Linked DNA regions of Homo sapiens: region 1 is reported to be linked to region 2. Evidence: microRNA targets listed by miRTarBase, many of them from high-throughput screens and not tested one by one. Region 2 holds a microRNA gene; the other region holds the end of a gene's coding sequence.

Region 1 (4,385 bases), not on the chromosome of region 2:
AAGGCAGAGGGCCAGCCTGGCTGTGCATTTGGAACCAGTCCCTGTGGTGGTTCTGATAAGTGCTTCTTTAGCCCACAGCCCCCGGGGGCACCAGTGGAAAGGGCTGGCGAGGGGGCTGTGCTTAGGCCCCATGGATGTGGCTTCTTACAGTAACCATCCTCAGGATCTAAGTGATGTGTTCTGACTAAAGCTTGAAGGGTTTGCTCCTGCTGCCAATTAGGCAAGGCCCACATACCCCTGTGCTTTGAGATGTGAACCCAGCAGGCTCTTCATCTCCATTGCACTTTGAGTGGGGCTGACAGGTAACTGGGCTGAGGCCAGGGCTGGGAGCTGGCATTTGAGCACTGGTCGAGGGAAGGCTTCTGGGAAAGGGACTCCCTGGCCTTGGTATAGATGGTGATCCCACGGCCCAGGCAAGACAGGCTTTGCTTGGGTGGACAGGCGCTGGGGGAAGTGGACGGGTGAAGGGAAGAGGAGGCAAGGTGGAGTTGGTATTGCATCCTTCCTAGCCCAGCCAAACCAAGAGCCAAGTCCCTAGGTGTTTGCAGAGAAACAGAGCAGTAGCCAAAGGGTACAGTGCACAGGGCTAAGTGGGGTGGCAGCTTGTCCAGGAGAGTCATCTTCCTTAGCCCGTCCCCCTGCAGTGATCGACATCAAGCTGGACAAACCCCAGGAGCCCCCGGCCAGCGAGGGCGGCTGCTCCTGCTAATGCAGAGCCGACCTGTGGCTTCCCATGACACTCCTTGCTTGTTGTGTTGCTTCCTATTGGCTAGCTTCCTAAGGGGGGAGGGAACCGAGTTATCAAGATGGGAGGATTTTTCTTTTCTCTCTGTCTTTAGGAGTAGGGTGGGATGGGGAGGGAGGCTGGGCATCAGGGATCACATCACTCTTAACGGCTGTTACTTAAACAACTATTTTTTGGTTTGGTTGTAATATATTGTACTTTATTAAGATTGCCAAAAACTGTTAAAATTTAAAAAAAATTTAAATCATGTGTATACAATTTTTTGCCAGATAAAAATGTAGTCATTTTTATTTGAAAGATGTGCTTTTTGTTTTTGTATATTTGTAAACTTATAGAGAACCTTTTCCACACACCTCCTCCTTCCTGTTCTCTTTGAACCATTCATCACCTCTGCCTTCCTCCTATCCCCAGCCCAATAAATTAAAACAATTAACTGAGCAAATTAATTAGGCTTCAGTCTGGGGCCATCTGGCCCCACTCTCTAGGCCCTACTCCAGTTAAATCAAACATTGGTTGAACACATCAGCCTCTGAAAAGGTAGCTCTGACTCTTGTCTTTCCATGGCCAGAGTGGGTCGTCAACCTCGTGTGGAGCTGAGACCAAGGTCTGTGGGCTCTAGGCAGCCCGGCAGCAGCCCCCAGAGGAACTGCTCCCACCTCTCCTTCTCTTTCCCTGAAAAGCCTTGAAGGGGGTTGAGGGTACAGGCAACCTTGTGTTCTCTGTGCCCTCAGGGACTGGCAGAGCAAGAGGCCATCAGAAGGACGAGGTGCTGTTGGCAATTGCAGCTGCGTGGTGCGTGGTTTATAGACTGGGGTGCCATGTGTACTTCTGAAAATATTTTAACCAGCCCACCCAGCAGTCAGTACACATGCCTGGGCCAAGTCTAAGAAACTCAGTGTGTGATGTTGGGCAGTGTGCCATCCTGAAGCCTTCCTCCTGGATGTCAGGGAAGCTGGACCACCTGGAGTTGATCCTCTGTGATGGGGAGGCGGGGGGGGGGGGGGGTGTTGTCTGCAGAACCACCACCTTGAAAGATCCATGTTCTTAGAGCCTCAGCTGCTAATATTGTTGAGTGCTTTCTGGAAAAGCTGATTTGTTGCTATGTTTTCACCCCAGTGGCATGGCGCAGTTGAAGTCTTTGTGGACATATCTTTGTGGCTACTGTGGCTGCGCTGTGGTCACCTGAGGATGTGGTTCAGGTGGGGTCTCCAGAAGGCTGCTTGCCCCCAGAGAGCCATCTCTTCCATTTTTGATTCATTCCTGAGAATGGCTTAGTCCTGAGAATCTGCAAAGTCTCTGAAGAGAACTCTCTCTTCCCACTAAGTGATATAACCTACTTGGCCAGCATTCCAAATAGACTCAGACTCACTGCCCTGAGCCTGCACAGAGCCAGGTGCAATGGGCAGTGAGTCTGGCCAAAATGTAAACCCCACCCTCCCTGCTGTCATTGGCTCTCCCTCCAGGCTGCTGCTGGGCATGTCATAGATGGGATGAATGACCATCTGGGGTATGGTGGGCTGAACTCCACAAGGTCGTTGGAATGAATTTTGAAACTTCTCAGAAATTAATCTGAAATGGCAGGCAGTAAGTGCAGCAGAATCTGGCAGGACTGATATTTGTGCAGTGGGCCTGCCACACACCCTCTGCCTAGGAGGCTGTATGCCAGAGCTCATCTCTAGCAAGGAATTTATCTTCAGGTGAAGAAGAGAGGAAGCAGGATCCCACTGAGCACCTCTTGCAGAAGGCAAGGACCAATGTTTGAACGTGTTTCAGATGTCATGTGTTTAGTTTTTATATGTGTGTACATAATTATATATAGAGATAGACTTGTGTATACACCTTCCACAAACACATCCTCACGGAGATACATGTGCTCAATGTATATTCTTGTTTCTCCTGCTCTCAAGTTGGAACTTGCATTGTGATAAGTTTTGGAAATTCAAAAGTACTGCAACGTGTTGAAATAAGAAATACTTAATATTGTCAAATAACTTGTGATTGTCTTGCCATCAATAAAATAATGCATAGTTGTGTTAAACTACAGGCAAACATAGCCCACGGGAATATCTCCACCATTTCTCTATGTACTTTATATGCACGGGTGTGCATGCCTGTGTGGGCCAGTGTCCCCCCACCATGGGCACACCCCCAAGTGGTGCTTGTTGGAAGAGTGCTTACTTACCTCGAGAGAATTTACAGGAGTCCACATGACAGTGTCCTGCCTGGTTGGCAGCGGGGGCCATCACCTGTGGCCTCTGAGACCGCCCCATTTACAGGAATCTGCACTGGGTCTCAGTGAATGAACGTATGGTAGATTTTTATTTTCTTGGCACTAAAGATTAGCTTTTTTAAAAAAACATCCCATAAAACAGTAGAAACTCAGTTCCCTTCTCAGGGGCACACACATCCAAGGCACCGTGGACTGTGTTTCCATCCTGGCCTAGAGGAGCAGTAAAAGATAGCATTTGGTTTGACATGGCCTTAGTGAGTCCTGCCTTTCCTAGCATGCACACAACATCCTCTCTTTGAGTTTGGGTTCTCCCCAGCCCCTTGGCCTCTGAGGCTGAGGGTGGCTTCCTCCCATCCTCCCATCTCAGTGGTTCCATGGCGCTCCCTTCGGCACGTGCGGTTTCCGCCCCTCCCTTCCTGGGGTGTGGAAAGGCAGCCAGACCTCTTTTTCAGAAGTTGTTGGTTCCCTGATTTTTGTCTTGAGCAGGCACCATCCCTGTCCCCTTGCTTGCAGGTAGAATTGGCACAGAGTTAAGGTTCCATAATAAACTGTTAGGTGCTCTTGAAGAAGATGTCATGGCATTGCCTCAGCACCCCAGCAAGAGCATTGCATCTTTGCTGAATCCAGATGGGTTAGCAGAGGGCAAATTGGAGGATTCCTTTGAGGAAATGTTCTCAATTGAGCAATTCAGTCCCTCTCCCCAAAGACTAGACGTGACCTGGCAGATTAGCAGGATCCTCTTGGCCTTCTTTTTTGGGGATGGTGGGAGTGAAGGGGGTGAATCTTAAAAGCTTATCAACAAAGCTCCTGTTCTGCAGGCATCAGGAAAGTTGAGTGTAAGATGGAAAAAGCAAACAGCCTATTTACAAGTGGAAACACATTGGTTCTGATCACTCCTAACTTGCTGGGTGATCATACATACATCAACATGAAGGTGTGACATCAGAATCATGAGCACCATGGCTGCAGTTGTGTGATCCAAGGCTAGTTGGCTTGGTAGCTGTTGGCAGCAGTTTCCCTTGGTCAGAGGCCTCCTTGCTATCTATCGCTGCTCTCTTCTTGTCATCCTTAAACATTCAGTCATGTTCCCAGGTCTGAGGGGAGCAATGGCCAGACCAGTTTCAGTATCTCTGGCAACAGAAACAAGGATTGAAATGGTGGTAGTTAAGAGTGCAGACACATCTGGGGTGCAACGTCTGCATCATCCTGGTGGCTAGCCAGTGCGGGGAGGCCCTGCCCTGGGATACCAGTTGTGACAATAAAGGGATGGCCCTCCTGGCTTCAGCATCCTGCAGGTAGAGCAGCCTCATTCCTTCACAAGATGGAAGGCAGGTGAGGATGTCAGGATGAGATGGGACCAGGTAGCCGAGGACAGTGAGGCATGTCTGAGCCACTTGAGGGGCAGCTGAA
Region 2 (4,322 bases):
TTGTTGTTGTTGATGAGCAAGACCTCGACAAAGCGGAAGGCTAGGGCAGCGGGCGCCAGCAGGCGCGGGGCCTCGGAGGGCTCAGCCGACAGGCACAGCTGCACGAAGTTCTTGTCGAAGTGCAGGAAGGTAAAGGGGCCTGAGCCGCTGCACAGCTCCAACCCCGCTGCCGCCTCTGCCTCCTCCTCTTCTGGCCGCCCCACCTCTGACTCCGCCTGGGCCACCGCCTCCTCGGGGCTAGGCCGCAGGCAGGTAAAGTTGACCAGGTAGTGGTCCAGGGGCAGCAGGCGGGGGGCAAAGTGTGCGCACACCTGCTCCTGGCGGTTGAAGCGCAGGTAGAGGGAGTACTTGGTGGGGTCAGGGTTCTCCAGGGTCCAGGAGCAGCCCGAGGCGATGGTAGGAAAGAGGTCCTGCAGCGAGAAGGCCCCGTAGAGCACACCCGAGGCCAGGGCAGAGCAGGCACTGGGGGCGGGGTCGAAGGCGGTGGCCAGGCGCAGGGACAGAATCACAGACAGTAAGAGGGGACAGGCTGGGGTCATCCTATGTCCCTTGCCCTGTGGAGAGAGACAGTGGTCAGCGGGCCCCCAGCACAGCCAGCATGGGCTCTGAACCTTCTATGGTGAGCTGCGGGAGTGGGCCTCATAAGTTAAGACCCTGGTCTTTGAAGTGTCACCTGGGTCCACCTGTGTGAACTTAGACAAGGGACTTGACCTCTCTGAGCCTCAGTTTCCTTACCTGTAAAATGGACCAATGATAGGACCTATCGCACAAGTTTCCTACAAGGGTGAAATAAGTAAGGGAAAGGACTCGCGAGAGTGCCTGGAATCTTGTGAGCCCTGAAGAAACAGTAGTTGTTGTTGCCATCGTTCTGTTTCCTCAGAGTCAGCCCATCAACTACAAGCATATTCGCCTTGCATTCAGATCCAGCCCCAGCCTCACCATCCAACCTGTATTCTCCATAACTCTTGCTCTCCATCCCCGTGTGTCGTGATCAGCTGTGAGGCATGTCACCGCGTAATCCTGTGGTAATTGTCAAAGTGGTGATGTTTGACTATGATTTGCTTTTTTATAAATTAGAGCAATTTGAGGTTATTCCTGGAACAATGTCATTCTCACTCACTTGCTTTACTGAGAGGGAGAGAAAGGGGCGGAGTTACAGCCAGTGTGCCAGGAACTGCGCACAACCTGAGCCATGCCCACAGGAGGGCACTGTCAGTGTGGACGTCACATGTATCACTGCTGTGGATTTCCTGGTTGGAATAAGGGGGAGAGGCACCGAGTAAGGGGACATTGGGCTTGAGCCCCAACCCAGCCAGCCACCTGCTGGTGGGTGACCCTCATGAGTCTCAGTTTTCTCATCTGTAAAATGGGTGCAGAAATTCCCCCTCTTACTTCCCTCTTCCCCTCCAGCTCCATGGGATTATCTTCCAAGGCCTGGTTCAGGGCCTGCTACCCCACCCCCCACTACCCACCTGTGAAGCCACCAGCCAGTCGTGACCTCTCTCCTATACTGTTTCCCCAAGGCTAGTTCATTCAGCTTATGGGTCTTCCAGTTCCTAAGAGTGGGGACCCAAGCTTGTTGCTTTCTACCTTCCCTTAAAGTGCTGCCCTAAGCTGAGCTCCCAACAGGTGTGAATGTACTCCAGGTGTGGGTGGGCACCTAGGACCCAAGCCCGACCCATACAGACACACAGAGCAGTCAGGCCAGAGTGGGTAAGGGCTGAGGATGGGGGGAGCTGCAGGTGCCCTCCCACCCACCAGGCCAGGGCTGTGTCACTGCCCACAGCCTGCGCAACCTCTACCCAACTGCCCAGAAAATGGAACCTAGCGCGTGGTCTGAATCAGCCCCACTTCCAATCCTACCCCCCAAGTAATCCAAGCGGCCTCCCTCCTGCATGCCACAGGATAGCTCACAGCACTGCATGGGCCCCCTAGAGCCCAGCTGGTCCTCATCAGAGGAGAAAAGATGGGGCTAGGAAAAGGGAGACAACCCGCTCCAGATCACACAAAGGTGGCCACAGAGGACGCAAGCCCAGGATCTGAGGCCCAGCCCAGGCCTGTCTCCCTCCACCAGTAGCCTCTGCTCCTTCCCTAGGCTTGCTGCTCAGGCTTCAGGCCAGATGGACCAGCTATTAGCTCTGGGGACTGAATCAGAAACACAGGACAATTCACAGGTATGACTAGATTCTCCCAAGACACAGTTGCTCCCAGGGAACAGACTTCCCCTTGGGTCTTCAGGAGTCTAAACAGCAGGCAGAGGGGGGACAGAATTTAGAACCCCAACTTTCCAGTCCCTGTGCAGCATCCATGGAGCTCCCCACTGCTCCAGATCCCACATCCCTTCATGCTGCACCTCCAAGCCAGGCCCAAGCAAGCATCTTCCCCTCCCAGCCATACAGGGGCTGGGGGAGATGGTGGAGTAGCTCCAGGCAGACCTACTCACTGCAGAGGAGCCACCCCACCCTCCTCCCAAGACCCACATGGAGTTATTCGGCGGAAGCCAGACAGGCTGTGCCTCTCCCCCCAACCACCCACCCTCCTCCTCAGAGCTGAAAAAGGGATCAGACCCCTGGTCTTTCCCACCCTACATCATGCCTGTCCCACACTGCTCAGCTCGCCCCACCTGCTGCGGCACTAGCCAAGCCAGCGGCTGATGATGAGTGACATCCAATCCCCCTGCTGCCCCCAATTATTTTTAAGCCGCAAAATTCAGGCCATGGCTGCGGCTCAGTGGAGGGGAGGTAGGGGCTCATTATAACCGGCCTCCCCTCCCCCACTTACAGCAGCTCAGGGAACCTCCCCTCACATACACACCAACACACATGGGTTTGAACACCCTTGTGCCCTGAGGACACACACACCAAAGCATGAGGGCACAGATGTTCACAGGAGTTCTGCATATGAATGGATACATATGTACACGGACATGCACACAGGTGAAACCCACAGATTCATGCTGTCACACACACTCAGGAGTTAACACGCACACACAGGGGTGTAGAGGCTTACACTTGTACACATGCACAGAGGTGCACACGCATTCTCGACTGAGAACACACATGAGTATCTGGCCCTCTGAGGCTCAGCATATGACAGCTAAGTGTCAGGCAGGATCCTCTGCGGGGTCTTCCTTTGCATGTCTGAAGCTGGATCTCCCTCCCCTACCCTGCTCCTAGGCTGCTGCTCCCTACTCCACAGCCCCGCCCCATCAAGAAGCACAAGGTCCACATCCTTCAGAGCCACAGGCTGGCTTCTCCAGAATGGAGTCACTTTTAACCCAATCCAACCCCCCTCCTCCCCTCAGTCTCCTTCAGACACCTTCACGCTCATTCTGGGATTTCGTCCTGGACATGCGTAACCCTCACTGTGCCGGCTATGACATAAGACCTTTTGGGGCGCCTTTTTATATTACTTCCCACCATTCAAAATAAGGCAAAGACCCAATTCCAAGCTGGGTCACAGACAGCCACTGGTTCATTGAAGACCCTCCTGCCTGTGTATAGCCAGGCCTGTCCTCCTGGGGGCACTGATGACCCAGAGGCCTCTCCCTGAGCCACCCGGGAAGGGGACCTAGAAGGATGATCCTTGCCTCACAGGCAGCCCAAGTGGCTCTTAGTCATGATTAACCCCCCTGAGCCTGTTTCCCTCTCTGTGCAATGCAGACCATGAGCCTTGCCCTGGGGATGGCAGACACCTCATCAGCCTCCCAACAAGTTCCCAGCACAGAGCCTAGCTCACAGCCCTGTCTCCTCTCTGTCTTTTCAGGACCTCATAAACGCTGCCCTCTTGCCTGCTGAGGTACAGGGCACTGCCTCTGGGAAGGCTCTTTGGGTTGAACCATAAGTGGCTGGCTACCTCCAAACCCAGGAAGACCACAGACCCATCCCTGCACAAGAGTTAGATAGGAGAGGTACTAAAGTCAGCTCTGAGGAAGAACTTCCTGGGCCAGAGGTGGCTGATAGAGAGGAGGATCAAAAGGCCTCCTGCCTCAGAGATGGGTGCGGAGCTGGCTGAAGTAGTCTCCCTCTCACTTTTAACCCTACCAAGGCCCCTCCTCTAGGGGGCTGGGGGCTGCCTTCACCACATGCCCCTGACCCCAGCAAACCCAAGAATCTCACTCTGCCCAAACACACTCAAGTCCCCTTTCTTTCCACCCCTCAGGGCTCCCCAGCTTCCCTTCTGCACCAATAAAGGAATTCAAAGCTTTCAGCAGCTGAAAGGGCCAAGGCAAGACTGTGGGGTAAGGGGCAGAGCAGCGGGAGAGGGGTGTCTCAGGCCCAGGGCCGGTCCGGGATTCCCAGGATGACTCCCATTCACGCTGG

What was found. The annotated mature microRNA hsa-miR-4254 reads GCCUGGAGCUACUCCACCAUCUC and lies in region 2 at 2,409-2,431, opposite strand. An mRNA with a match to its seed (bases 2 to 7 or 8) in the 3' UTR can be bound and repressed. Matches are read on the target gene's strand: a 7mer-m8 pairs with bases 2 to 8, a 7mer-A1 pairs with bases 2 to 7 and ends in A, and an 8mer does both.
Region 1: the mRNA of RAB6B is a reported target of hsa-miR-4254. Seed matches in the 3' UTR shown: 7mer-m8 at 2,203-2,209.

Annotation. Positions count from the first base shown.
Region 1 is chr3:133,825,112-133,829,496 of GRCh38, reverse strand. It overlaps RAB6B (RAB6B, member RAS oncogene family), which reads left to right. Exons shown (of 8, transcript NM_016577.4): 8 at 645-4,385. The coding sequence ends at 709. It also overlaps a transcript of SRPRB not described here. Among named protein-coding and RNA genes, the nearest start is that of SRPRB, 21 kb to the right of the region's middle.
Region 2 is chr1:31,756,262-31,760,583 of GRCh38, forward strand. MIR4254 (microRNA 4254) reads right to left here and starts at 2,474; the gene lies at 2,399-2,474. It overlaps ADGRB2 (adhesion G protein-coupled receptor B2), which reads right to left. Exons shown (of 33, transcript NM_001364857.2): 2 at 1,121-1,250; 3 at 940-1,020; 4 at 1-554. The coding sequence starts at 960. RefSeq lists enhancers at 1-329, 330-934.